Homo sapiens: one gene and its partners. The protein of the gene in region 6 purifies or fractionates together with the protein of the main gene of each other region. This does not show direct contact. Each region holds a gene or a part of one and is shown on either strand. Other genes may lie near its edges.

What was found.
Region 1: the proteins of ALG2 (region 6) and ACKR3 purify together in Homo sapiens (co-immunoprecipitation; one large-scale study listed by IntAct). This does not show direct contact.
Region 2: the proteins of ALG2 (region 6) and POTEF purify together in Homo sapiens (affinity purification with mass spectrometry; one large-scale study listed by BioGRID and IntAct). This does not show direct contact.
Region 3: the proteins of ALG2 (region 6) and KLK15 purify together in Homo sapiens (co-immunoprecipitation; one large-scale study listed by IntAct). This does not show direct contact.
Region 4: the proteins of ALG2 (region 6) and KLHL12 purify together in Homo sapiens (co-immunoprecipitation; one large-scale study listed by IntAct). This does not show direct contact.
Region 5: the proteins of ALG2 (region 6) and ATP1A3 purify together in Homo sapiens (affinity purification with mass spectrometry; one large-scale study listed by BioGRID and IntAct). This does not show direct contact.
Region 7: the proteins of ALG2 (region 6) and CELA3A purify together in Homo sapiens (co-immunoprecipitation; one large-scale study listed by IntAct). This does not show direct contact.

What each region holds. Positions count from the first base shown.
Region 1 is NC_000002.12:236,579,410-236,582,944, reverse strand, and holds the end of ACKR3 (atypical chemokine receptor 3), read right to left. Parts: intron 2,506-3,535; 5' UTR 2,480-2,505; coding exon 1,391-2,479; 3' UTR 591-1,390; downstream 1-590. UniProt on the Homo sapiens protein: Atypical chemokine receptor that controls chemokine levels and localization via high-affinity chemokine binding that is uncoupled from classic ligand-driven signal transduction cascades, resulting instead in chemokine sequestration, degradation, or transcytosis.
Region 2 is NC_000002.12:130,108,571-130,112,575, forward strand, and holds part of POTEF (POTE ankyrin domain family member F), read right to left. Parts: intron 3,532-4,005; coding exon 3,425-3,531; intron 2,111-3,424; coding exon 1,973-2,110; intron 1,788-1,972; exon of another isoform or gene 717-1,787; intron 1-716.
Region 3 is NC_000019.10:50,830,502-50,835,233, forward strand, and holds the start of KLK15 (kallikrein-15 isoform 4 preproprotein), read right to left. Parts: upstream 3,074-4,732; 5' UTR 3,026-3,073; intron 1,023-3,025; 5' UTR 992-1,022; coding exon 949-991; intron 793-948; exon of another isoform or gene 598-792; intron 64-597; exon of another isoform or gene 29-63; intron 1-28. UniProt on the Homo sapiens protein: Protease whose physiological substrate is not yet known.
Region 4 is NC_000001.11:202,906,570-202,910,574, forward strand, and holds part of KLHL12 (kelch-like protein 12), read right to left. Parts: intron 2,556-4,005; coding exon 2,441-2,555; intron 1-2,440. UniProt on the Homo sapiens protein: Substrate-specific adapter of a BCR (BTB-CUL3-RBX1) E3 ubiquitin ligase complex that acts as a negative regulator of Wnt signaling pathway and ER-Golgi transport.
Region 5 is NC_000019.10:41,983,727-41,987,731, forward strand, and holds part of ATP1A3 (sodium/potassium-transporting ATPase subunit alpha-3), read right to left. Parts: intron 2,504-4,005; coding exon 2,390-2,503; intron 2,273-2,389; coding exon 2,138-2,272; intron 1,698-2,137; coding exon 1,580-1,697; intron 1,461-1,579; coding exon 1,192-1,460; intron 1-1,191. UniProt on the Homo sapiens protein: This is the catalytic component of the active enzyme, which catalyzes the hydrolysis of ATP coupled with the exchange of sodium and potassium ions across the plasma membrane.
Region 6 is NC_000009.12:99,215,773-99,219,295, forward strand, and holds the end of ALG2 (alpha-1,3/1,6-mannosyltransferase ALG2), read right to left. Parts: intron 3,065-3,523; coding exon 2,162-3,064; 3' UTR 653-2,161; downstream 1-652. UniProt on the Homo sapiens protein: Mannosyltransferase that operates in the biosynthetic pathway of dolichol-linked oligosaccharides, the glycan precursors employed in protein asparagine (N)-glycosylation.
Region 7 is NC_000001.11:22,000,376-22,004,961, reverse strand, and holds the start of CELA3A (chymotrypsin-like elastase family member 3A preproprotein), read right to left. Parts: upstream 3,306-4,586; 5' UTR 3,288-3,305; coding exon 3,245-3,287; intron 1,960-3,244; coding exon 1,874-1,959; intron 1-1,873. UniProt on the Homo sapiens protein: Efficient protease with alanine specificity but only little elastolytic activity.

The DNA of each region.
Region 1 (3,535 bases), on a different chromosome or scaffold from region 6:
GAGCACTCTTTCCAACCACTAGTAAGGACATGCGCAAGCTGGGGATTCGCTCATTGTGTGGCCTCAAGGGGGTAGCTGATTGGCATGGTTTAAATGAAAACTCTCAATAGGAAATATTGCCCCTGGAGGTGTTTACCTTAGCAGATGAGATTTAAGGGGCTGTGCCACTGGCCCTGGAAGCACACAGGTGGTACAGATGAGGACACCAGTCCTGCACCCTGAAACTCTCCTGTCTGGACGGAGAGTTCAGACAGGTTCAGAACAGAGATGGCTCTGGCCAGCAGGAAGTAGAAGCAAGTGGCACCTTCTCTGTGCCAGCCTTCTCTCCTAGCTGGACCCTAGCAATCATCCCCCACACCAAAAACACTATTGCCTGAAAATTTTTTTAAAAACCATGCAGTGTGCTCAAATGATTTTTTCTTTTTATATCATTTCAAACAAGTTAACCTGGTAGCTTTTGCTTTACAGCAGCACTCTTTTTCTGAGCATGTTCATGCAGGTGGCCTGTGTGTGCCATATATATCCATGAATTATTATCATGTGTGCTATTCAAGTGCCAAAACACACTTTGAAAACTGAGACTTGATGCATTTTTAGGAAACAAAAATCTTTATTAAAAAAAAATAACTTACAAATTGAGAGAACTCTCTGAAATGCAACTGTTCGTTGTGTGTGCAGATTTGCAGTCCAGAACAGTTTTTTGTTTATTTTAAAATGTAACTTTACAATACTATTAATGTCACAAACTGCATTACAAAGCAGTTTTCGTTCCATATCCCGTGCCGGTACAAAACACCACACAGATATAAAACTATGGTAAATAAAACATTTCAGCCAAGACTGGCATATATTTATATATTTATATATATTTATATATATATAATTTCAAAACAGCTAACAATTAGTGTCATCCTTAGTCAAAACTGAAGTCACGCTAACCTTAAAACTACAACACTCTGAATATATGTCAGCACTATGCCTCCCAAACAATATTTAAAATATATTTAACTTTCAAATACATTTATAAGGTACACCAATAGTGAGAAAATAAAGTCTTAAAATTTAAATACAAATCACCATATAAAAAATTCAGGAAACACAGAAAATCCTATCTTACAGAAGTCCAGGCAAGCCTGTCCTCAGCTGGCTCTGACGCACAGCACTGCTGTGCGACACAGCTCTGCCTGTTGCAAAACTGTCAGCACGCACAGCCAAATGACAGCTGCGTCATCAAGAGAAAGAGAGAATGGATGCAGGGGGCACGTGCTCCCCTCTTCACTCTACTCAAGCATCAAGACCCGAAGCTACTTTGCTTTGCTCTAGAAAACCATAGGGCCCATCACCCTGTTCAAAAACAAGTAAACCCGTCCCAGAGCCTCTCCAGGGCAGATCATTTGGTGCTCTGCTCCAAGGCAGAGTACTCCGTCTCTGAGACTCTGGAGGCATCGATGAGCTTGGTGAGCCCTGTTTTGGCCGAGTACTTGAAGATGAAGGCCTTCATCAGCTCGTACCTGTAGTTGCGATTGATGAAGCTGTAGAGGACAGGGTTGACGCAGCAGTGCACCAGCGACAGGCACTGTGTGACATGCAGGGCCGTGAAGAGGGCGTGCTCCAGCCGGCAGGTGAAAGGGATGTAGTGCAGGATGGAGAAGATGTCCAGCAGCACCGCCACGTGGTAGGGCAGCCAGCAGACAAGGAAGACCACCACGTAGGAGAAGATGATCTTCCGGCTGCTGTGCTTCTCCTGGTCACTGGACGCCGAGATGGCTCTGGCCAGCAGGAAGTAGAAGACAGCGATAATGGAGAAGGGAACGGCAAAGCCCAAGACAACGGAGACCAGCTCCATGCCGATCAGCCACTCCTTGATGCTGTGCTCGGGGTAGAAGGACCGGCAGTAGGTCTCATTGTTGGACGCAGACGTGACGGTCTTCAGGTAGTAGGTGTCAGGCAGAGACACGCAGAAGGCCAGCAGCCACACCAGGATGCAGACGACACGGCGTACCATCTTCTTCCTGCTGCTGGGGGTGTTGGTGAAGTAGGTGATGGAGAGGTAGCGGTCCACGCTCATGCACGTGAGGAAGAAAATGCTGCCGAAGAGGTTGATGGAGAAGATGAGGTGTGTGACTTTGCACGTGAGCTCGCCCATGGGCCACTGGTTGTGCTGCACGAGACTGACCACCCAGACTGGGATGGTGAGGACAACCCACAGGTCGGCAATGGCCAGGTTCAAGATGTAGCAGTGCGTGTCATAGCCTGTGGTCTTGGCCTGGATATTCACCCAGACCACCACGGAGTTGGCAATCATGCCGATGACGAAGATGAAAATGTAAATGAAGGAGAGCGTGTAGAGCAGGACGCTTTTGTTGGGCATGTTGGGACACATCACCGTGTCCACCACGATGCAGTCGCTGCTGTTGCATGGCCAGCTGATGTCCGAGAAGTTCCCTGGCTCTGAGTAGTCGAAGAGATGCAGATCCATCGTTCTGAGGCGGGCAATCAAATGACCTATGAGAAAACCAAGCAAACAAAAAAGATGGAAGAGGAAAGTCACTTCATTAGGAAAAACTCAAGTTTCAGGCAAAAATGCTTTTCCAAGGCCCTGATAGGCTCAGCTGTTTGGGTTTAGCTCTGTAATGTCTTTGCAAAGAAGGGAGAAAAAAAATTCATAATAAAACTCTCCAAAACAAAATAAATCATACTCTGAATCTAAATCCATGTGGTGCTCCAAGACAGAAACTGTGTTTGCTTTCTCCATCTTTTCATGGCTGTGTTCTCAAGACACCGCCAGCATGGCTGTGCCCAGTGTGTGAAATCAACACAGTACAGGGGCCAAAGAAACGTCAGGCAGCTGAGCCCCGGCCACCGCGATGCTGATGGCCTGCTCACTCTCAGCAGGGGACAGTGGAGCCATTTTATCTAGGTCCCCAAAGAATGGCAGGGTTGTCCTCTCCTGGCACTGCTGTATTACAAGTGTCCTGCTTTGGTGTCTTAATGAAAGCATTTCAAATCCTCCTCCAAATTTGCATTTATAATGTGACTCAGCACTTTTTACTTGTCTGCTAAATTCACATATAAACCTGGGTCTCAGGCGGCCCCAGTGTGCAGTCATAAAGCCTCTGGAAACACAGTGAGCCTACGCAGGGTGCCCCACAGCTTAACTGCGCCCCAAACCTGAAGACTCTGGGTTGGCCGTGTGGTTTTCAACGAAGGGCAACCAACCAGCTGTCTCAAGCTTTGGGTCAGCACCTGTTTTTCCATTCCTTTATTTGTTCAACTGCTTCAACAGCAAGGTGTGCCAAGACTCAAAACACAAAAATCACCACCTGCTGCATTTCAGGAGGGCTGACCATTTTCCCAACTGTTTTCCCTGCTGACCTGAGGTGAGACCAACACTCCATCACCATTTCACTCCCAGCCAGAATTCAGCCACGGGGTACCATTGTTATCTGGCACTGATTTCTTCAGATAGACTGACAGGGGCTGTCTTCTACTGTCAGTCCGCCCATGGGAAGGCCCTGAAATCCCTCCAGGCCAC
Region 2 (4,005 bases), on a different chromosome or scaffold from region 6:
ATCCCAAATAAAACCCAATGCGTATTTTGTTCATAGGTTCTAATATGCAAATGTTGTAGTTTTCAGAAAATGTTATTAAGTCCTAATTTTGCTTCTTAGTTGTCCTACTCTTTATGGCTTATAATTCAGGGCATCTCAACTATGTCATAGTTTATAACTAAATTTATTCATAAATATCTCATTAAAGTAGATAATGTGATTGTCCACTATTACGGAGTTGATCAATCACACCAAGGGCAGAAAAACCAATGGATGTTAAGACCTGACTTGGACCAACGATCCTTCTCTACCGACTCAAACTCTCAGCCAGTAGATGTCTGTTAGGATAATGCTTTATATTGATGTTCAATTCCAGCTGACATGGGAGACCAAAAGTCTACTTTTATTTTTTTTTTAGTTTCCACGGAGAAGTAGCAAGCTGACATTCTGTAATTTTCGACATACATACTAACAATATATTTTGCACGGAACATGTTATTCAGCTCAAAGTCATCTCATAGACCATCTTACATGACTATTTTTGCAGCACAAATCACAATTTCAATATTTGGGTGGCACCCATTTTGCTTTGATTCACACTATTTCCTCAGAGCTAGTCAGCAAAAATAGTCAAATGACCTTCCAGTGACTGCACAAAATATGGAATGCTTCAAAGATCTGTCCTGCCTCCTTATGCAGAAGCCACGCTAACTTTCCCCGTATTGTTCCAATTTTAGGATATGTGCCGCCGAAGCAAGCACAAAGCCCTACTTTTACATATGATTAGTGATGCGTCATGGACAAGGCTTGGCTCTGTGAAGTCCAACTAACCTACTTGAGATTCTGAGAATTCTCTTCAATGGCTTCCTGTGAGCTAGAGTTTGAAAATATCTTAAAATCTTGAGCTAGAGATGGAAGTAGCTCCGATAATTTTCATTATCATGTAAATCAGATCACTCAAGGGGCCAACCACAGCTGGGAGCCACTGCTCAGGGCAAGGTTCATACGGGACTTTCTACTGCCCAAGGTTCTATACAGGATATAAAGGTGCCTCACAGTACAGATCTGGTAGCAAAGAGGAAACAGACACTGACCTCCTTCTGCCACATTATTTGAACCCCTCTCACCCTTTAGAACAAGCCCACCTAACATCTGCCAGAGAAAAGACCAACAACAGCCTCAAAGGATCTCTTACCATGAAGGTCTCAGCTAATTCCTGGCTAAGATGTGGGTTCCACATTAGGTTCTGAATATGCGGGGAAGGGTCAATTTGGTCACTTTGTGTGCGGATAAAGTCAGGATGCCCAGCGGCCAGAGCAGGGGGCTGGTGCTCTGGGAACAATGGCTGAGCATATAAGCATAGGTATGGGAATTAAAAAACATCAAAGTCACTGTATGAATCGCCATGAAGACTTGAGGGATCTGAATCTACTGATTCATCTTAAGGCAGCAGGACCAGTTTGAGTGGCCACAAAGCAGCAACAGAATCAACGGAAACAACAGAATGATTGCAATGTCTTTTTTCCTCCTCCTTCTGACTTGATAAAAGGGACTGTCTTCCTTGGATTTAGTGAACTCCTTCGGTTCTTGAAAAATTCAAGGAGTATGTAGGACATAGTCCCCAGAAGACAGTACAAGACTTTCCGCTAAACTGGACATTTCAAGACCCAAATAACTAATCAGAAAAATTAAAGATGTGACACTATTTTTTATCCCTGCATAGGTGTTACACTTGGATCAAATGAACAATGCTGGGATCTCTAAGGATAAAGATCTTAAAAGTCCTGAGATAAAGAATCCCGCACCCATTGGTACTTCTAACTTGTCTTGCTTTTTGTCTGATTTCTGGCTGATGCAGGGGACTAAAACTCACTGCCACGCGAAAACTACCTGAACCAAACTATGACATCTCACCTGATATGTGAGATGCAACTGTTATAATTATTTTAAACCTCAATTCAGCATTAACTAGCCTTTTAATGTAAACACTTACACATGATGATGACTAGAAACAGCATACTCTCTGGCCGTCTGTCCAGATAGATCTTGAGAAGATACATCAATATTTTGCTCAAGTAGAAGGCTGACTATACTTGCTGATCCACAACATACAGCAAGTATGAGAGCAGTTCTAAAATGACAGAGATAGGAACTGTAATAAAGTTATTTTTAAAGCTAATTTGATATACTTTACCAATGTAACATCTTGCCTGTCTGTGCAGAATCAAACATTTACATGCACTAAAAGACATAAGCAACCTGAGTGCTCAAGTGTTCATCTTTGTAAAATGCCACCAAGGTTAAAAGGAAGGGACCAAAAAAAACCCTCTTATCTCAGTGGGGTATTGCATAGCAGAAGCTACTAATTTAAAGTCCTTTGATGGGCAAGAAACAATGTTAGGGCCACTTATCTGAGGTGGACAAAGATTTAAGTGAAGATTTTGTCACAGCTTCCCTAGACTGACATGCTGTAATAGAAAATCAGCTAGGGGGTAAGAGAAATAAGAGCTCTCTGCATGCTCAAAGCAGTAATAATAATGGTAAGAATAGTAGTCATAGGAGTTTCAGTTAATGGTGCCAATAACCATGTGCTAGGCACTGAATTAAATGCCACATATATCTTTCTTACTTATGCACAGCCAACTTTGAAGGATATATTCTCCTACTTTTCATATATGACAACATATTTGGTGGTAAATAACGTCCCCAAGGTCACACACCTAGCAAGTAAGAAAGTTACTAATTAAACCCAGTCTTGTGTGAATCCAAAGCCTAGCTCTTTTCTCTTTATCACCCACGTACGGCTTGTCTTCATTAAAGGAAAAGTGTATCCACTTAAAACTATCTTCACTCCCTCTCTCCATACCAATTAAAAATAAAAACATCAAAATACACTGGAAAAACAAAAGGAAAAAAGCTGTTGAACCCACAGTATGTGGGAACAGCAATTAATTGTTATGTAGGGATAAGCTAACACTAATATTCTTCAAAGAAAGCAACTTAAAGCAAAGTCATTAAAAAGACAAAAGGATTTTCAACCCCTATTTATGTTTAATACAGCATATTTAATGGAAAAGCATGTAAGACACAGGTTAAAAACTATTAGAAAGGGTTAAGAAGTTCAATACTGAGTCATAAAGTAAACTAAAAGTTAAAGTTCAAACTTCATAAAATTAATATGAAATCCTTTAAGCTAACATAAGATCATGTAACCAAAAATGTCACATAACAAATAACATCAGTCAATATAATAAGAGAAGATGAATCCTACTAAAACTGTTCTTTATGTTGCCCAGCCCAAGTAATTGTTTTTCTACCTAACTGATTTGTGTTGATACTGATCACTACATCCCAGTAAGTATACATTAATCTTATTAATTTAATATTTATGACTTGAGTGACTGCTGTCCATCTACAACACACAGATTAAAAGAAAGAACTATACCTTCCATATCTATCCAGTGCATTTAAATTCGCTTTTTTCTTAATTAAAAATTTCACGACTTGCTGTTTTTGCTCATGTACACCAAGTAACAGTGGTGTGAGGCCATGCTGTAAAACAATATAAAGCAAAAACCTATGTAATTCAAAAAAGTACATATTCCTCAACCGAAGTGGAAACTTTATATAAGATCTTATGGACTTACACGCATAGAAGTAAATAAAATGTAGTCACTTCCTTCTCACTCTTCTGTGCTTTCCCACACGCTGCTCCTTCCCTTGGAAACACCCCTTCTCTGCCTCACCACAGTAACTCTAATCATCTCAAAAACTCACTTTAAACATTTACTGCTTCCAAGGCTCTTTGCTTCTAAACCAGCATTTGGCTTGGTGTTATTGGATGATAATATTTTTCCCATCTAAACAAAAAGCTTCTTGAGGGCAGGGGCTGTATCTTTTGTCTCTATATCCTCAACCCTAAGACAAATTGTGTATAAAGCAAGAATCTGCATGTAAAATATTTCTTTAGTTTCATGTTTTACCAAAAGTTCAACCTCCAACATGCAACAAAAATTGCTATTAAAA
Region 3 (4,732 bases), on a different chromosome or scaffold from region 6:
GGCCAGTCCAAGCCAGAGGAAGGTGGAGGCCCCAGCTGGGCGCAGCAGGCAGGCGCGAGGCAGGTAGGTGAGTGCACAGAGAGAGCCGGAGGGGAGGCTGGAGGCGTGGGGGTCTCAGGGGCCCCCAGGAGTGAGGGTCATTTGTGGCAGAACGTTAATGAAAGTCCACCCCCCAATTTCTCCAGAAGAGAGGCATCAGGTTACAATTAATTTCTTGGTGTGTGGCAGCTGAGTTCAATCTGGAGTTTGCCTGACACCCAAGGTGACCTTGATGTTGTGGCCGTCCCTCTGAGCCACAGCCCCTTCCCTTGTCAAATGAGGTCGGTGGTGCCCACCACACATAGACGTTGTATGTAAGCTCTAAGCACCGTGCCTGGCTTGCACACCTGAAGGGGCACTACCTGGGCCAGGCTTATGCTTCTGCCTCACACACAACCACATTTAATCCCCTCAAAGACCCTGTAAGAGACAGGGAGTGGCAGGTGTGGGACTCAAGCTGGAGTCTGTCTGTGCTGTTGGCCTCTCAGCACTTGTCTAATGCTTGCTATGTATATTACCTCTGTTATGCTATTGAGACCTCACTGTTATTGTCTCAAGTGGGTGCTGTCTTATAGAGAAGGCATTCGAAGCCCAGAGAGGTGAAGCAGTTCCCTCAAGGACACACAGCAAGGAAGCGGTTGCCCCAGGACTCAGCTCAGGTTTGTGTAACCCCAGGACCGTGTTCCTTGTCGTGGGCAGCGAGAGGCCCCAGGCAACATAGCGACTCCAGAGCAGCAGCACCAGCACCTGACGGTAAGGGCTTAGGGACATTGGCACAGGTGGAGGGTGAAGGAAGGATCTTTAGTGGTCTCTGGGTGAGGTAGGGGCTGGCAGATCACTGGGCCCAGACATGCTTGGGAAGGGGGCACCTGCTCCCACAGACCTGGCCCCCTCCTGGGGCCACCTCACCTGTGGATGCCAGCAGGAAGGAGAGAGTGAGGAGAAGCCACATTGTGGAGGAGGGACCAGGGTTCGGCTGCAGTCTGGGGAGGGAGTGAGAGAATCCAGGTGAGGCAGGACCCTTCTGCCTCCACCAGGATCCCTCCAGACACAGACTTATCCCATCCACTGTTAATAAATTTCTTCTGACCACCGGTATCCCCTTCCCCCAACCCCACTCTGCGCTTCCTTCTGGGTCCCCCATCTCTGGAAGGTTTACTCTTCCTCTAGGCACTCGGACAGACCCTGCCCCACCTCCTCCACCTGTCAGCCTCCAGCACCATGCTACCAGCCCCTGGATCTCTCTCCATCATCACCAAGGACCCCTGTCCCAACTTTTTTTTTTTTTTGAGACGGAGTCTCACTCTGTCACCCAGGCTGGAGTGCAGTGGCACAATGTCGGCTCACTGCAAGCTCCACCTCCCAGGTTCACACCATTCTCCCGCCTCAGCCTCCCGAGTAGCTGGGACTACAGGCGCCCACCACCGTGCCCGGCTAATTTTTTGGAAATTTTTTTTTTTTAAGTAGAGACAGGGTTTCACCGTGTTAGCCAGGATGGCCTCAATCTCTTGACTTCATGATCCACCCACCTCGGCCTCCCAAAGTGCTGGGATTACAGGCATGAGCCACCGCGCCTGGTCTATCTCAACCCTCTTATCTGGCCTTTTGGGTCCCCCTCCAGTCCAGTCCCCTCCACCAGCTTGCCCTCCAGCCATGACCCCAAAGGGTCTTTCTACATCTGGAGCTGGCTGTGCCCCTCCCCTGCTCACCACCCTCCATGGATCCTTGGCACCACCAGGATAAAGTCCAGCTCTTCAAATTCACTTTCTTTCTTTTTTTTTCTTTTTTTTTTTTTTTTTTGAGACGGAGTCTGGCTCTGTAGCCCAGGTTGGAGTGGAGTGGCGTGATCTCCGCTCACTGTAACCTCTGCCTTCTGGGTTCAAGAGATTCTCCTGCCTCAGCCTCCCAAGCAATTGGGATTACAGGTGTGTGCCACCACGCCCAGCTAATTTTTGTAATTTTAGTAGAGACGGAGTTTCACCATGTTGGCCAGGCTGGTCTTGAACTCCTGACCTCTAGTGATCCACCCGCCTCAGCCTCCCAAAGTGCTGGGATTACAGGCATGAGTTGCCTGGCTCCAGCCTCACTTTCAAGGACAAAAGTGGCTTCTTCCCTTCCAGCCCCTCTCCCTGGGTCTCCCATGACCTTGTCCTAGACGCAGCCAGTGCTGCCATTTTCCCTCCTGCCATTTCATGCTTAGGCTATTCCTCCCACCGCATATCCAACGCCATTCCCTTCCAGCCCCGCTTCCTCCTTGAGGCCTTCTCTGACCTCCCCTGACCCTCAGTGGTGTCTGCCTCCCCTACGAGACTGGCAGCTCCCCGAGGAGCTGGTCTGACTCCACTCTGGGTCTCCAGTACTGCAGGGCCCGACCCACGGGAGGCCTCAGGAAGCTTTGAGGGTGAATTGAAATCCTTCTTCCCCATATCTTCCAAATTCATCTTTGTCCTCTGACACTCTGCCCCCACCTCTTCTGGGAGGCCCCAACACCTAACAGGTGTCTCCCCTGAATCCCACAGCACCCATTCTGTCTCCATTACAGCGCAGATGCCCCATACTTGCTGAGGTCTGGCCTGTTCTTTTCTCCATCTGGGGGTCTTGAAGATGGGGCTCAGGTCAGGTTCTTTCTGTGACCTCAGCACTGCCCCACCTGGGGCCTGGTACACAGGAGGCCTCCGGGAGGTTGTGCTGAACTGACTTGAACCCGTGATCACTCCTGACCACGTTCTTGGCTCTGATACAAGTACTTCAGGGACGTCCTCCTGATCCACTCCATCCCCCTCCCTCCCCACCACTGCAGCTCCTTCTGGCCATTCCAGGACATTTTCTTGGTTCAGGTTCAATTTGGGGCATTGGTAAAGGACACGTGGATCTACCCATGCCCTTGACACTCAGTTCTCCAAGCGTGGTCAACGTTTCCCCTTGAAACCAGGGCACAGTGAATCTCCCCTTTGCCCCTCCCTCAGTCTTGTCTCAAAGCTCTCACCTCCTCCAGATCCTCCAGCAGCATCTAGGGCAGCTTGGGTGCCAGAAGGGAGCAGGTACCAGGATGCCTGAATTTATAAGCTCCCAGTCCCAGCTGGGTCTGGGGGTGTGGTGGTGTAGGGTGGGGTGGGAGGTGGCTGAGAGTCAGGTTTACAGGCAGAGACGCCTTGGTTGCTGGTGGGGTGGGAGACTTGGCCTAATGAGCATTTATTAGGTTGAAGCTGTTGTCTGAGTCCACAAAGAGGAATTCTCCACCAGGAGCAGTTCCTCAAGGGGGAGGGGACAGGAGGACAAAAACAGAAATTAGGAGGAGATCAAAAGACAGAGTCTGGAATTTGGGGTCTGGAGTGTGGAAACTGGATCCTAAAGTCCCTGTTCTTGGGCTTGGGGCAGAGTTCTGGATCCCGGGTTCTGGATCCGGATCTGGTTCTGGATCTGGGTCTTGGATTCTGGATTTGAGGATCTTGAGTTGGAGATTAATGACCTGCAGTCTGGAATATGGATTTCAAAGTCTGAGTTCTTGGGCTGGGGGTCTGGAATCTGGATCCTGGAGTCGGGCCTTTGAGTGACAGATCGTGAACCTTGATTCTGGATCCCGGGGCATTCGAATCTAGAACCCACAATAGGAGCCTGGAATCTGGTGTTTGGAATCTGGCAATCGAGGCTGGAAACCTTTGCACCTGCTATGAGAAGCCTGGGGCCTAGACTACAAATGGTAGATTTGGGATTTTGAATTGTGGGGTCTGGATTCTTTTTTTTTTTTTTTCTGAGATGAAGTTTCGCTCTTGTCACCCAGGCTGGAGTGCAATAGCGTGATCTCAGATCACTGCAACCTCCACTTCCTGGGCTCAATAGATTCTCCTGCCTCAGCCTCCTGAGTAGCTGGGATTACAGGCGACCACCACCACGCCCAGCTAATTTTTATATTTTTAGTAGAGACAGGGTTTCACCATGTTGGCCAGGCTGGTGTCGAACTCCTCATCTCAAGTGATCCACCTGACTCAGCCTCCTAAAGTGCTGGGATTACAGGCGTGAGACACCATGCCAGGCTTGGGGTCTGGATTCTACAGGGTGGATCTAGCCTCTGAGCTTTCAGGAGTAGACTTTGGAACATACAGTCTGGAGTTTCAAATCTGTTTTTGCATTGAAAACCTGGACTGTGGCTGGGCCCAGTGACTCATGCCTTTGGGAGGCTGAGGTAGGAGGATTGCTGGAACTGAAGGGTTTGAGACCAGCCTGGGCAACACAGCAATACCTCATCTCTATGAAAAATCTAAATAAATAAATAAATAAGTAAATAAATTTTTAAAAGGCTGAATTGAGAGACAGGGACCTGGCTTTCACGATTCTGAGATTGCTAGAATCTTGACTCTAGAGTCTGAATTTAGAGTCTGGGAACCCAGGGTCTCTATTCTGGTCCTGTAGTCTTATTTCTGGGTTCTAGAGCTTGAAATCTGGATTCTGCATCCCAGAGGCTGGAGATGATCACTGAGATGACCCAAGGCTTTGGGTATTTGAGGCTGGCTTCCAATGTCTCAGAACCCCAGAGGGCCCCAAGCAATTATCTAGAGTCTATTTTGGCTTAATTAATGAGGAGGTCCCAAGACAGGAGGGACTGACCTCACTCAGGTCACCCAGTGAAGGATGGGACCTGTTGTAAGCGTGGTCTCTCCCCATGTGTGGAAAGTCATCATCTTTATGGGAAGGA
Region 4 (4,005 bases), on a different chromosome or scaffold from region 6:
GATTGATTGTATAACAATGTATTTAACATGAGTCAACTGTACATGTAAAAATGGTTAAGATGGTAAATTTTATGCTAAATATATTTTATTTAATTAATTTATTTATTTTTGAGATGGAGTCTCACTCTGTCGCCCAGGCTGGAGTACAATGGTGCAATCTTGGCTCACTGCAACCTCCGCCTCCCGGGTTCAAGCGATTCTCCTGCCTCAGCCTCCAGAGTAGCTGGGATTACAGGTGTGCACCACCACACTCAGCTAATTTTTGTATTTTTAGTAGACATGGGGTTTCACCATGTTGGCCAGGCTGGTCTCGAACTACTGACCTCAAGTGATCTGCCCACCTTGGCCTCCCAAAGTGCTGGGATTACAGGTGTGAGACACCGTGCCCGGCCTGTTACATATATTTTACAAAAAAGAAAAAAAAGACTTCCATCCAGAAGGTATACAAATATTTTCCTATAATTTCTTCTAATATTCTCATAGTTTTTCACCATTCAGTCCTTCAATCTATCTTGTGTTGATATGTATCTGTGTATAAAGCATATGAAACACAGATCACATTTTGTCATCTTGCAGTAGTAGAAAATACCATCTACAATGCCCTATCTAAAAGTTCTCTTTTTAAAAAAATGCAGTATCTTTGAGTGGTAAGATTATGGATGATTTTTATTTATTTTTTGCTTCTCTGTATTTCTACAAGTTCTACATTGAACATGCAGTACTTATGCCATTAAAAAATATAGGAGAGGGAGCCAGGCATGGTGGCTCATGCCTGTAATCCCAGCACTTTGGGAGGCCAAGGTGGGTGGATCAATTGCAGCCAGGAGTTAGAGACCAGCCTGGTCAACATGGAGAAACCCTGTCTCTACCAAAAATACAAAAATTAGCCAGGGATGGTGGCAGTCGCCTGTTGTCCCAGCTACTCGGGAGTCTGAGGCACAAGAATTGCTTGAACCTGGGAGAGGTTGTAGTGAGCCAAGATTGCACCACTGCACTCCAGTCTGGGTGACAGAGCAAGACTCTGTCTTAAAAAAAAAAAAAAAAGGAAAAAAATTATATATATATATATGGGAGGCCTGTAATCCCAGCACTTTGGGAGGCCAAGGCAGGTGAACTGCTTGAGTCCAGGAGTTCAAGACCCAGCCTGGGCAACAAAGGAAGGCTCTGTCTCTACAAAAAAATATAAAAATTAGCCAGGCATGGTGGCACGTGCCTGCGGTCCCAGCTACTTGGGAGGCTGAGGTGGGAAGACTGCTTGAGTCCAGGAGGCTAAGGCTGCAGTGAACCGAGATCACGCCACTGCACTCCACCCTGGGCAACATAGTGAGACCTCATTTCTATTAAAAAAAATAAAATATAGCGGATAAATCACCATTCTACCTAAACCCATCAGTGAGCAGCTTAATTATCAACTAACACCTTAGCACGCATCATGAGTCCTCAGTCAGATAAAAGGAAACAATAAAACAAAATACCACCCCATACATATAGAGTAATTCATAACTTATAAAATGTTTTTATACACTATACACCTAGGCTTTTGGACAGTGAAGCAAAGAGAATAGGAAGTGGAAAGTATGGTGATATCTGAGTATTTAGTGTGTGCCAGCTATAGTGTTAGGTATCTTATATACATTATCTCATTCAATCCTCCCAACACTGAGATAAGACACTAACTCTCATCTTAGTGGTAGACATACAGGCTCAGATAAATTGATACCTTGCCCAACCAGTCATTGCTGGGGCTTGGATTTGAACCTAGGTCTATTTGCTAAGATAATAGCTAATACACATAGTTATTATGTGCCAAGAAGTGTTTTAAGGCTTTACATAAATAACTTTATTTACTCTTCATAACAATGTTACAGGCAGGTGCTACGATGATTCCATTTACAGATGAGGCAACTGAAGCACACAGAGGTTAAGGTTCCTGCCCAAGTTAATAAATCTAGTACGAGGTAAACTGGTACCTGCACCAACAGTAACTGCCAAAACCCATGTACTTTCTACCACACTGGGCTCCTTTTCTTCCTCTCTTCATTCCGGAATGGAAAAACCACATAAGGGGAAGTGAAGAGGTGGGTGGAAGCATATACTACTTACCTGCCATTATGTGGCACTAAAATTATCTCTAATTCACAGAATCTAAATAATATTGACAAAAAATTGTAACATATTATGTAATGCCTGACAATGTATAAAGTGCTTTTATATTTTATCTCATTTAATTTCCAAATAATTATGTGAAGTAGATAGAGAAGACATCCTTGATTTATAGGAAAGAAAGCTTAGAGTGGTAAAGTGACTTGTCTGAGATGATAGAAGAAAAGGTCTGAAACGAGGTGTCTGTACTTCTTATAGAGTATTATTTTCAACTATGTTGTCACCTGCAAGAAGTAGTTGAAAAGCATCCCCTCATTCTGCCGAGATACCAGCTTACCTAGGCGAGCCCTTGTCCTGGGTCCCTGCATCTGACTCCGAAGTTCAGGCCTCAGATGAAACTTCTTTGCTTCATCAACCAGATCCCTGCATTGTAAACTACAGCGGATGAAAGGCTGAAATATAGCAGACAGCAGAGTTAGGCACTGGGGATACCTGTAATACTATAAGAGTACAAAGAGCACATGCAAATAATTAACTTCTGACTACAGAAAACCAGTTTGCAAAGCCCTGTGATTCCAGGAGTATTGCTGGTAGTAACCATGCTCTCGGTTTCCAGAAATGATTTTTAAAATTTACTTGAAAAATAGATAACATACTAGATGGATCAAAAATCAAATGATATAAACAGATATGTTGAGCAGTATTTCCCATCTATCGCAGCGCTTACATTTAACTATTTTTACATAGTTTGGATGCCCTTCCAGGGATTATGCAAACACAAGTACATAATAACTAATAAGAATTTTAAGGGGAAAACCAAAAAGATTCTGTTATTTTCTGGGTGACAGGAAGAATCATATTTTGTCTGAAATATCTCCCCCAAGGTTCACAGTCCTGTTGTAATTACCATTGTCTATTTCTGACAGCTCTGTACTGGACATCTTTCATTTGCCTCCCAACTCACTCTGTACCTTTTTCCACTCTGCTCTCTGGCTCAGAAGACTGGCCTATATGAACTGTGTCAATAGGGCTTCCTATGCCTTCTAGCTTCTGGTTGGGATCAGCCCAACCAAAGGTCAAGGTTTCTCTCAAGGCAGTGACTCTACACGATTCTCTTTCCTTTAAGGTTCTAGTAACCACTCCTCAACCTTGTCCCTTCAGGCTTAGGGGTTGTTAATAGCTTATGTCCTAGATCCAGGTTATTTCACTGTCTTTTGTTGTTTCTCTGAACTTGCGCCTTTGTAAACAGCTTCTTTATTAAAAAAAACTCTTCTAAAATTGTCCTGTTTTGAGTATAGCATCTGTTTCCTGTTGGGACCCTAAAGGACACAGCTCTAATTAAATGGCACCTCTATTAACCTGACCCAAGAAGTTCTTAGTCGAACTGGAAAGGAAAACAAACAATAAATAGTAGTAAACACTTATGTACAAAGACTTGGTTTTAAAAGTTTTCACATAGTAACTTACTCAATGCTAACAAGAACCTATGAGGAACGTACTATTATCATCCCTGTTTTACACATAAGAAAGCTAAGGCACAAATATATTAAGACATATTAAGTTCACAGAGTAAGTGGTGAATTTGGGATTTCAGGCCCGAGTCTGGTTCCAGAGTCTGTGCTCCTAAACACAATGTAAAGAACTAGACACAAGGGATATGTGAATTGGTTGTAAGAAAGACAGAAATCACAAACAGGAGAAAAAGAGTTTGAGATGTGACACTGACCATGCTGCAACTTTTCTAATGTGAACAACTGAAAAACTGTTTGTAGTTAACTAAGAGATCTAGGGCTGGGCCAGCAAGAGGAACTCTTCTTGCTGGGTTACCTACATATTATAAATCAATGCTCCCTCGAAGTATGGTCCAGGCAACACAGGTGGTATATATGGTAAAAATTATGA
Region 5 (4,005 bases), on a different chromosome or scaffold from region 6:
CTACAGACATGTACCACCACGCCTGGCTAATTTAAAAAAATTTTTTTTTTTTTTTTTTTTTTTTTGAGACAGAATCTCGCTTTTGTCGCCCAGGCTGGAGTGAGGTGGCACGATCTCGGCTCACTGCAAGCTCTGCCTCCTAGGCTCAAGCTATTCTCCTGTCTCAGCCTCCTGAGTAGCTGGGATTCCAGGCACCCATCACCACGCCTGGCTAATTTTTATACTTTTAGTAGAGATGGGGTTTTGCCATGTTGGCCAGTCTGGTCTCGAACTCCTGACCTCAGGTGATCCACCCGCCTCGGCCTCCCAAAGTCTTGGGACTACAGGCATGAGCCACTGCGCCCAGCCTTCACATTTTTTGGTAGAGATGGGTTCTTACTATGTTGTCCAGGCTTGTCTCAAACTCCTGACCTCAAGCAGTCCTCCTGCCTCAGCCTCCCAAACTGTTGGGATTAAAGGCGTGAGCCACTGCGCCAGGCTTATTATTTTATTTTATTTATTTATTTATTTATTTTTGAGATGGAGTTTCACTCTTGTCACCCAGGCTGGAGTGCAATGGCGTGATCTTGGCTCACTGCAACCTCCGCCTCCCAGGTTCAAGCGATTCTCCTGCCTCAGCCTCCTGAGTAGCTGGGATTACAGGCATGTGCCACCACGCCCCACTAATTTTGTATTTTCAGTAGAGACAGGGTTTCACCATGTTGGCCAGGCTAGTCTTGAACTCCTGACCTCAGCTGATCTGCCCGCCTTGGCCCCCCAAAGTGCTGGGATTACAGCGTGAGCCAGTGCACCCAGCCTCATTATTTTATTTTTTAACTTGATGTACTCTTCAACTTTTCATCATGAGCGTGCACTTCTTAATTTTGCAATAGGATTGTTGGCTCTTTACGGCTTGCCAGTGTTTCTCAAGATTTTTGTTTGTTTCTTTCTTTGATTGTTTGCTTTGTTAATGAGGCCCTCTGAGTCAGGCCCAAGTTGTCTTTCACAAGAATACTGTGATCCAGGCCCCCAGCCCCTTCTCCGGACCCAGGGGTCCAGATCCCAGCCCCTCCTCCCCCAGACACACGGGTCCAGGCCTCTAGCCCCTCCTCCCTCAGACTCAGGGGTCCAGGATCCCAGCCCCTCCTCCCTCAGACCCAGGAGCCCAGACCCCCAGGCCCTCCCCACCCAGACCCAGGAGCCTGGCCTTACAGTGACAGTGGCCAGCAGACCCTCTGGGACATTGGCCACGATGATGCCGATGAGGAAGATGACAGCCTCAAGCCAGGTGTATCCGAGAATGAGGGAGAGGATGAAGAAGGAGACACCCAGGAAGACAGCCACGCCGGTGATGAGCTGGATGAAGTGCTCAATCTCGATGGCGATGGGCGTCTTGCCCACCTCCAGCCCTGATGCCAGGGTGGCGATACGGCCCATGACAGTGCGGTCGCCCGTGGCCACCACCACGCCCCGAGCCGTGCCTGCAGGCCAGAGGGGTTAGGCTGAGGTGGGGTGGCTCAGGGAGGTTCTGGAGGCCTGACCCCCTGGGACACATCCCTGTGTCTGCCCCAGCTGTGTGTCTTCTCTGCACCCGCCTCACCTTCCACACAGTTGGTGGAAAAGAAGGTGATGTTCCGAGTCTCCAAGGGGTTGTCGTGAGTGCAGTCGGGAGAGCGAGTCTGGGGCTCGGATTCGCCAGTCAGGGAGGAGTTGTCCACCTGGGGGTAGGTGCAGCAGAGAGAGGGTTCAGTCCAGGGCCTGGGACAGGAGGGTATTTGTGTACAGGGCTTGGGGCTGAAGCCTGTGTGCCTGGAGATCACAGCTAGAAGCCTGGGTGCCCAGTGGGTGAGTGGTGTGTGGGAGGCCAGAGGCTGGGATCTTGAAGGTGGGGAAGGCACAGTGCTGCTGGCCAAGGTCTAGGGTCCCTAAGGATCTCCGAAAGGTGAGGGCTGGGCCTGGACTCCTGACTGTTGGGTGAGGAGGTGGCCCAGGGCCTAAACTCCTGGGTCTGAGGGAGGAGGGCCTGGGGGCCTGGACTCCTGGGTCTGAGGGAGGAGGGGTTGGGACCTGGACTCCTGAGTGTGAGGGAGGAGGGGCTGGGCCTGAGCTCCTGGGCAGCCCGAGGGAGGGTAAAGCCGGGCCCTAGGCCCAGGCCCACCTTGCAGCCGTGGGCTGAGATGATCCGCAGGTCAGCTGGCACTCGGTCTCCACCCTTGATCTCCACCAGGTCCCCGACCACCACCTCCTCAGCGTTCACCTGCATCTTCTCACCTTCCCGGATCACCAGGGCTTGCTGAGGTGGGATGGAGTAATGTCACCTCCCAGACTCCCTCTGCCTGGGGGTCACTGGGCCCGGCCCCCAGCCCATACACTAACACCCCCGTCTGGCCCCTTGCTGGGCACCCTTCACCTGGGGCACCATGTTCTTGAAGGACTCCATGATCTTGGAGCTCTTGGCCTCCTGGTAGTAGGAGAAGCAGCCAGTGATGATCACCACGGCCGCCAGCACGATGCCCAGGTACAGCTGTGGGGAGATGTGGGGATGTTGATCAGGGGCCGCCCAAGCCACTCTCCACCAGTCCCTGCTCGCCTGGAGTCTGGGAAGGGAGCTTTGTGTCAGTGGGGGTCTGTATTTGTGTGTCTGACCCTAGGTTGGTTATGAGGGTTGGTGTGTCTGAGTCTCCCCTGTTTGTGCTTGAGTCCCTCTTTCTGTAATGGTTGTGTTTGAATCTAAGGGTCTGTCGATTTTTTTTTTGAGACAGAGTCTCACTCTGTCGCCCAGGCTGGAGTGCAATGGCATGATCTTGGCTCACTGCAATCTCCGCCTCCTGGTTCAAGCGATCCTCCTGCCTCAGCCTCCTGAGTAGCTGGGACTACAGGTGCATGCCACCACACCTGGCTAATTTTGTGTATTTTTAGTAGAGATGGGGCTTCACCATGTTGGCTAGGATGGTCTTGATCTCCTGACCTTGTGATCTATCACCTTGGCCTCCCAAAGTGCTGGGATTACAGGTGTGAGCCATCTTTCCTGGCATTTTTTTTTTTTTTTTTTTTTGAGACAGGGTCTCGCTCTGCTGCCTAGGATGGAGTACAGTGGCACAATCTCAGTTCACTGTAGCCTCAACCTCCCAGATTCAAGCAATCCTCCCTCCTCAGCCTCCGGAGTAGCTAGGACTACAGGTGTGCGCCACCAGGCCCGGCTATGTTTTGTGTTTTTTTAGAGGCTGGGTCTGTCTGGGTATGTTACTCAGGCTACTGGAACTCCTGGTCTCAAGTTACCCTCCTGCCTTGGCCTCCCAAGGTGCTGGGATGACAGGCGTGAGCCACCATGCCCGACTTGTCCATCTGTTTTGTGTGTGTGTCTGTCCTCCTGCACATGTTGAGTCTGGGATGCGGCTGTCTGTCCATGTGTCTGTCTGACTGGCTGCATGCCTGACTTTACATTCTACAAGGCAGCTTCTTTGGTTCTCTGTGTGTGGATCTCTGTCTCTGTGTCTCCAGCTCTGCCTCTCTGTGAGAGCTTATGTCTAAGACTGTTTAGATTTGAACATCTGAGGACACTCTCTGTGCCTGACTCTCATGTCTCTCTGTCACCAGGTTATGCCTGCATTGCTGTGTGTGTGTGTGCGTGTCAGTGTGTGTGTGAGTTTCTCTGTCAGTGTATATCTGAGTCTGTGTCTGTGTTTCTGAATTAGGTGGCCATGTTTGAAACCACATCCTGGTGTGGCATCTGCGTTGACCCTCCGTGCACATGCGTGTGTGTGCACACACGCCTACCCAGGTGAGCAGCTCTGTGTGGCTGGTGTGTGGTCTGTGTTATGCGCATGGGATCTGAGGCTGCATCTCGAATGTGTCCCTGTGTTATGGGGATGGGCCCTGATGTATCAGCAGCGGGGTGTGCCTGGGTCTCTATGTGACACTCACTCTGGGTATCTGTCAAGCCATGACCACCTGCTGGTGTCTGTTCTCAAGGCCGCTGAGGTCACACAGCCTTGGGACAGAGCCCCGGCTCACACATCCTGCTGT
Region 6 (3,523 bases):
CCTTGAGATTCTGTCCATTCTTCAAGGCCATGGGACGCAGGCAACTTGCTTAACTACATTCATCTAAAAGGGAAGAATACCTACATCTCAGTGAATTGTTGAGGATTAAGCATCTGCTATGTATGTATCTCCTTTCCTGCCCTGCACAAAGTAATTACCAGAATTACTATGGATAAGGCCCCAACAATTCACCTTCAATGTTTCATGCTTCTACTTTCCCTAACTTCAGCTTAGTTTTGGAAGGTGTGAACACTTCTTAAGGGCAAAGTTCCATTCTAGGGTCCAGGAACCAGGAACTAATGGTCAGAAGCTGGAAGCTCATGGCAGGCAGGACTCCATCCCTCCCAGACCTGTGAAATCTTATTGTCACTCACTCCGGCTTAGGACAATGAAGTGAAGCTAAAATCAGGGTCCATGAACCCATGTAGTCCATTTGAAAGGATTTGCATAAAAATGGTCAAATATGCAAATGTTTAGTGCTGCTTAGTAAGGTAAGCACCATGTTGTAGGTCACAGTGTGGCCAAGTCTATCTGTGCTAAACTCCATGGTAAGAGCCACCAGGCTTCCTGGAAAGGCTGCATTTCTCAGAAACACATGAACCAAATCATACCTTCTGTACTACATGGTAAGCTTTCACAATGCCAAAGAAAATGGAATGCAACAGAACTTTTAATCCCATAAAAGACTCAATATATTTGGCACCCTCATTTTATAGTACTCCTTTTTGGTACAGAATCATTTTGCCAAAATACTCCTGTGATACAGATGCACATGATAAACTGTAAAATGGAATTTCACCCATTGAAGAGCCCCAAAAGAACAATATGGTAGTGCAGCATGAACTAACATGCAATTTCTAATTTTCAATATCCCCAAATTGCAAAATACTAATAGCTAATATATATACTATATGCCAAGTATTAAGTACTTTGTAATATTATCATAATCTGTTATAACCGCACTATGAGGAAAGTAGAATAGTACAATTATCTCACTTTGCAGATGAAGAAGCTGAGGTATAGAGATCAATTTACACAAAATCATATAGGCTGTTAGGCTCTCAAGTCTAGCTCTTAAGAGTTGATAAATGTGGAGCCTTTGGCTAGTAAGCTTTGCTACTTCTGGAAATGAATTTAGCCTTAGAAGTATGTTGAAAACTACTGTTTATGATTTGCTGTTAGACCAACAGGTAAACAGTGAACTATAAGTCAGTGTCACGAAAATATCAGTGTCATGAAAAGGCTAGAGTACATGGAGGGGGAAGATAACTTCTGGCTTGGGAGGTGGCCAGAGGGTCAAAGAAAGCTTTGCAGCAGTGGCATTTGAGCCAGGCCTTGGAAGATAAAAAACATTTGTGTCCTATACTTAGTAGGAGCTTGGTCAAGACAACACAAATATTAACAAAACTAATGACCTAGATGACATTAAGAAATATACCCTAAACAAGATGCACAACACATGTGTGACAATATTCTTGCTTCATTTCAATATCCACTTTACCCTAGTGTTCTGATTTCCAGTTTGGTTGTCATATCCATGTTCGTAACAATACCAAAATAGATTATGGAGACCAAAATCTAATACTGTTTCTTTTTTATGATAAACACCTTTTATTATATCTCAGTGTGCAAAAATACAAATTATCTTAAAAAAAATACAGAGCACTCTCGCTATGGATCCAGGCAAAGACAGGACAAACAAAAATTCCCTAACAGATGACAGTGAACACTTCGGTGGATTGAATCTGGGAACTACAATAGCCCTGCTCTCATTATACTATGAAGCCAAATTAATCAACTTTGATAATGATACACACTTAAACTATGAAAACCAATTAAGGCACAGTATCATTCAAAATTTATAGACAGAAGAGCAATAATCCCGAGAAAATATAATTAAAATACTCTGCTGAACATGGAATGACACCACATTTGTAACTTAACACTGGCAAAATTTGGAATGATTATAGCATAAAAGACATGGTTTTTCTGAAAAGTGGACAGGGAGGTGTGGTATATAGGAAAGTGGCTCACATTCAAGACTCAAGTTTATTTTTTAAAAGATCTCTTCTGCATTAGATTCTAGGTTTCTTTTTTGGTTTCAAAACTGGGTCTACAATCCATAAAAATGACATTAATGGAGATCTTAAAAACAATCTGATTATACCAGCAGTTTGGTAACATATCGGTAGAGCTGTTCTGTAAATGCTTCAGGGGAAAATTTTTCCTTCACTCTGGCTCTTCCAGCCAGGCCCATGGTGGCTTTTAAGGAAGGTTCACGGATGAACTTTTCTATTGCTTCTGAGAAGTGCACCGGGTCAGGCTCACACAGAAACCCTGTGACACTGTGGTCAATGGACTCCAAGGGTCCACCCGAATTAACAGCAATGACTGGGCACTGCATGTACATGGCTTCCAGAGGGACAATGCCAAAGTGCTCATTGCTTGGTGTGTAAAGCACACACGTGCAGCTGTGGAGGAGGGAGATTTTCTGTTTGTCTGAGAAAGACCTCAAGAAGGTCACATACTGGCCAAGGTCGGACTGTTGGACCATTTTCTTCAATTCCTGATAATGTTCCACATTCTCCAGGACTCTCTCGTCATAACCACCTGCCACGATCAGATGAACCCTCTCCCAATCTTGGGATGTCAATCTTCCACGCAGCTGTACTAGGGCTTCCAGTGCCAAAGTCAGATTTTTCTTCCTTTCGTATCTGTTGATGGAGAGCAGCAGGAATTTTTTCCCCTTGGGGACTAGGTCATCCAGCTTTTCAGGAACAACTGAGTCAAAGCTGGTGACATTTAGAGATGGATAGAGGACATCAGGGTCTATGTGAGACAGGGACTTGAATGTTTCCTTAAAAACAGCAGCTGTGAACTGGCTGTTGACTAAGATGCAGTCTGCCATGCCTGTGGTGTATTCCTCTATCCAGTCAATTGGGGCCCTGTATAGTCGTTTAAGAAAAGAATCTCTCTTGGTGAGAAGCAGATCTGGGAAGTGACAGTAAAATAGGATCTTCTTCCGCCGTCTAGCCAGCCTGAACACTGGGATACAGGCAGACACCTAGCCAAAGCAAAAATCAACAGCGGATAAAGTGGTCAACTCAACTTCAACCAAACCAAAAACACAGACACCCACCCCGTCTGGCTAGTCTGTGGGCTCCTCATGGGCAATGTCTGATTCTGTTTTATTCCCCAAGACTCTCACCCAGTACCATATGCCTGGTGTACAGAAGGCTACAGACGTTTGCTAGATGTGTGCTAAACATTTAAAGCTTCAAGTCCAGTGATTTCCTCTTGTATAGTGCTGTCTAATAGAAATCTAGTAATATTAAAAATGTTTTTAAGGGTGAAATTAATTTTAACATATTATTTACCGAAAACATTATCATTTCAAAATGTAACCAATACTAAACAGTATTAATGAGATACTTTATATATACATATATTTCACATTACATCTTCAAAATCGGTTTGTATTTTAACTTTAGCACATCTCAGTTTAGACTAGCCACATTTCAAG
Region 7 (4,586 bases), on a different chromosome or scaffold from region 6:
GTGCCTGGCTAATTTTGTATTTTTAGTAGACACGGAGTTTCACCATGTTGGCCAGGCTGGTCTCGAGCTCCTCACCTCAGGTGATCTGCCCACCTCGGCCTCCCGAAGTGCTGGGATTACAGGCGTGAGCCACCGCGCCCAGCCCCCCTGACTCTTTTGAACCTCAGCTCTTTCAAGGCCTCTTGAGCCTTCTGAAGCACAGCTCACCCTGATGAGTTCTTTGCCTCTCTTCCCATTTCCTACACATTCTGATTTTCAAAAGCTCCATCTAGACCAGGGTTAGCAAACTGTGGACAGTGGGGCACATCAGGCTTCTGGTCTGTTTTTGTAATAAAGATGTCCTGGAAATAGTCACATTCATTTCTGTATTGTTTGTGTCTGCTTTCATGCTACCATGGCACAGTCAAGTCATTACTATCCAAACCATCAAATAACCTAAAATATTCACTCTCTGGCCATTTACAGAATAAGCCTGCTGACCCTCTCCGATAAAACTTCCCATAATCATGGGAATGTTCTATATCTTTGCTGTCCAATATGGTAGCCACTAGCCACATGTGACTATTGAACATTTGAAATGTGGCAAGCAGGCCAAGCATGGTGGCTTACGCCTATAATCCCAGCACTGTGGGAGGTCAAGACAGGAGGATCACTGGAGCTCAGAAGTTCGAGGCAAGCCTGGGCAACATAGTGAGACCCCATCTCTACAACAATGTATAAAAATTAGCTGGGCATGGTGGCGCATGCCTGTAGTCCTAGCTACACAGGAGGCTGAGGTGGGATTATTGCTTGGACCTAGGAGGTCAAGGCTGCAGTAAGCTGAGATCACACCACTGCACTCCAGCCTGGGCAACACAGCAAGACCCTGTCTCAAAAAAAAAAAAAACAAAGAAAAGAAAAGAAAAGAAAAAAGCACTGAGGAAATGAATTGTTAACATTTTTAATGTAAGTAAATTTCAGCTGGGTGCAGTGACTCACACCTGTAATCCCAGCACTTTGAGAGGCCGAGGCAGGTGGATCACCTGAGGTCAGAAGCTCCAGACTGGCCTGGCCAACACAGTGAAACCCTGTCTCTACTAAAAATACAAAATTAGCCGGGCTTGGTGGCGCGTGCCTGTAATCCCAGCTACTTGGGAGGTGAGGTAGGAGAATTGCTTGAACCCGGGTGGCAGAGTTTGCAGTGAGCCAAGATTGTGCCATTGCACTTCAGCCTGGGCAACAAGAGTGAAACTCTGTCTCAATAATAATAGTAATAATAATTTAATTTAATTTTTTTTTTTGAGACAGAGTCTCACTCTGTTGCCCGGGGCTGGAGTGCAGTGGTGCAATCTTGTCTCACTGCAACCTCCAACTCCCAGGTTCAAGGGATTCTCCTGCCTCAGCCTCCTGAGTAGCTGGGATTACAGGCGTGAGCCACCGCACCTGGCCTAATTTAATTAAATTTAAATAGCCACAGCACATCAAGTCCAGCCTTCTGAGCTTCCCTCCACTGGCCTTACAAGATCCCTCACTCCCTTATTGCTTTCAGACCTCAAAGCCCTGTAGTATCATCCTAGGAATCTAGAAATGAGTCTCTCAAAATCTCACTTCGTCAACACAGTGCCTGAAATTCCACCATCAGTGTGCCAACTCCTTGAGTTTAGCATTTCCTTCACCCCCGATTCCAATTTTAAGTTGCAAATAGCCCAGTGAGGGTTACAGATGAAACGGGCAAAACCTCCCCGTGAAGTAGATGGTCCAAGGGCTGCCTGGTCTTTGGAAGCTGAAGTGGACATTGCAAAGGGAGCAATGGTGTCAAGGCTGGATGCCACGCCATTAGAGCTTAGGGTCCAGAGCCCACGGTGGGAATGAGGGCAGCTGCTATTGCTCTTACCTGCCAGGGCCAGCTGTAGGGGACCGCATCCTCACCATGGACAACGCGGCTGGAAGAGTGAGAGGAAGGTGGGCCATAGCCTGAGGCTAGAGGGGAGAGGAGAGCTGTCAATCAGCTGGAGGGTCCCCAAAAGCAAAGAGGAGGCCAGGGTCCCAGTCCAAGCCATGCCTTCAACTGGCTGTGTGACCCCATGCAAGCCCCTTTCGCCCTCTGGACCTCAGTAACCACATATGAACAGTGAACATTTAAACTAGAGCAGGGCTTTCCAGAATCCCAGGAGTCCAGGGATAGAGATTCAAATGTGGCCTCCTTCATTGGGAGGATTGAAGAGCTTGATACACTTAGAACAATGCCTGGCCCTCGATGAGCCCTCAAAAAGTGAGAGCTATTGTCATACAGAGTGGAGGCTTTAAAGAAGGACTTCCTGGGTTCAAAGTGCAGCTCTGGGCTGTGTGTGGTGGTTCACACCTGTAATCCTAGTGCTCTGAGAGGCCGAGGCGGGAGGATCGCTTGAGCCCGGGAGTTTGAGACCAGCCTGGGCAACATAGCAAGACCTCATCTCTAGAAAAATAAAGTACAATAAAATAAAGTAGCCAGGTATGGTGGCATGTGCCTATAATCTCAGCTACTCAGGAGGCTAAGGTGGTAGGATTGCTTGAGGCCAGGATTTTGAGACCAGTCTGGGCAACAAAGCAAGACCCCATCTCTACAAAAAAAAAGCAAAAAATAAAAACATTAAGTGCAGCTCTGCCTTTTGTTCTATGATAAGCTACTTTACTTCCTTGAGGGTCAGTAAAATGGGGGATAATGATAGTACTGATCTCCTGAGGCTGTTGTGAGAATTACATGAGAAAGTATAAGAAAATCCCTAAACATTCTGCCTGGCATAGTAAGCACTCAATCAATGTTATCTGTTACCATTATTGTCAGTCAAGGGAGGCTGTTTGGAAGAGGTGGCCCTGAGCTGGAATGTAATATGGCAGAGAGACCAGGAAAAGGCCAGAGCATAGAATATGGAGCCAGGTAGGGGGAGTGAGAGGAGAGTTGGAGTGGTAAGTAGAACTGTGGAAATTCCAACCCAAGAAGTCCAACCACACAGTCCAAACTCTTAACCGTTTGACTTTGTTTACTGCCCCCATCAAGGACTTCCACCACAGCCCTTTGGGGGTCTTTCACCATCCACAGCTTCCCCTCCACTCTCCTGCTCCATCATAAGCTGAAAGCCCCTACAGTCATGCCCCCGGGTACAAGCTGAGACCCCCTCCTGTGGAACCAGGCATAGCATGTCATGGGACTCAGAGCGAGTGGTAGATTTCAAGGATTCCTAGTCCAGGGCAGCCCAGGGAGCACACAGACAGGTTGGGGTCTTACCAACGGCCACAAGGAGGAGGGAACTGAGCAGCCGGAGCATCATGAGTTTTGTGATGATAGGAAAAGGGCACAGAGCCTGGGGCTCTAATATAGGGCAGAAGGTAAGCAGGGGGGCTGATTGGGCCCCACTCCCAGAACAGGTGGTGGAACTCCAGGTCTCCCATGGTCCAAGGCCACAGTCCTCGCCTGCTGCAGATGGACAAGTGACAGCCAAAGGGAGGACCTAGCGTTCCCTCCAACAGGTGGCTGGACAGGTGGTGTGGAGTGGCCAACTGATAACAAGAGTTCAGGAAGAAAAGCTCATGTCAGGACAAGACCTCCTCTTTCGGAAAGAACAGGGGCACTGGAACCGGGCAGACCACGGTTCAATCCTGGTTCTGCCACCTTCAAGCTCTGCGACTTTGGGCGCATGGCTTAACCTCTCTGAGTCTCAGTTTTCTGCTCTCTAACATGAGATTTATATTAGTACCCACCTCCACAAAAAAATTCTTGTTGAGCACTTTTTCTCTATGTATCAGGCACTGTTCTAGGGGATACAGCTGTGAAAAATGCATGGTCTCAGCCCTTCTAGAGTTTGAGTCTAGGCCAGGAGCGGTGGCTCACACCTGTGATCCCAGCGCTTTGGGAGGCCAAGGTGGGAGGATCACTTGAGGTCAGAAGTTCGAGACATGATGAAACCCTATCTCTACTAAAACTACAAAAATTAGCCAGGTGTGGTGGTGAGCACCTGTAATCCCAGCACCTGTAATCCTAGCTACTGGGAGGCTGAGGGAGGAGAATCACTTGAACCTGGGAGCGGAGAGGCAGAGGCTACAGAGAGCCGAGATCATGCCACTGCACTCCAGCCTGGGCCACAGAGCAACACTGTCTCAAAAAACAAAAACAAAACCAAAAAAAAAAACAGAGAAGAAAAGAAAATGAAACATAGGTGATTGGGGTAGGAATGGGAGTAAGTCATTTAGATGGGGGGGACAGAGAAAGTGACATTTGGGCTGAGGAGGTCATATCTGATGGAGTCCTGAGGATAAGTAAAAGCCAGCCACGGGAATCCCTGAAAGAAACGCGCTCTGAAGGGAGGCGACAGCAGGTGCGAAGTTCTGGAGGCTGCAATGGGCTTGACTTGTTCAAGGAAGGGGAGGCCAGTGTGACAGGAGCTTGGTAGTCAAAGTAGAGAGGGGTGGGAGATGAGGTCAAAGAGCAGGCGACCCCGAAAGTGGAATTCACAGGTGATCCAGCCGTTTCCCTCCTAGGTCTATACCGTGAGAAAACCTTAGGCATGTGCTCCAGGAGGTGTGGATGAGATTGTTTGCCGCAGCCCCTGTTCTCAAAACTCAACAGCAAA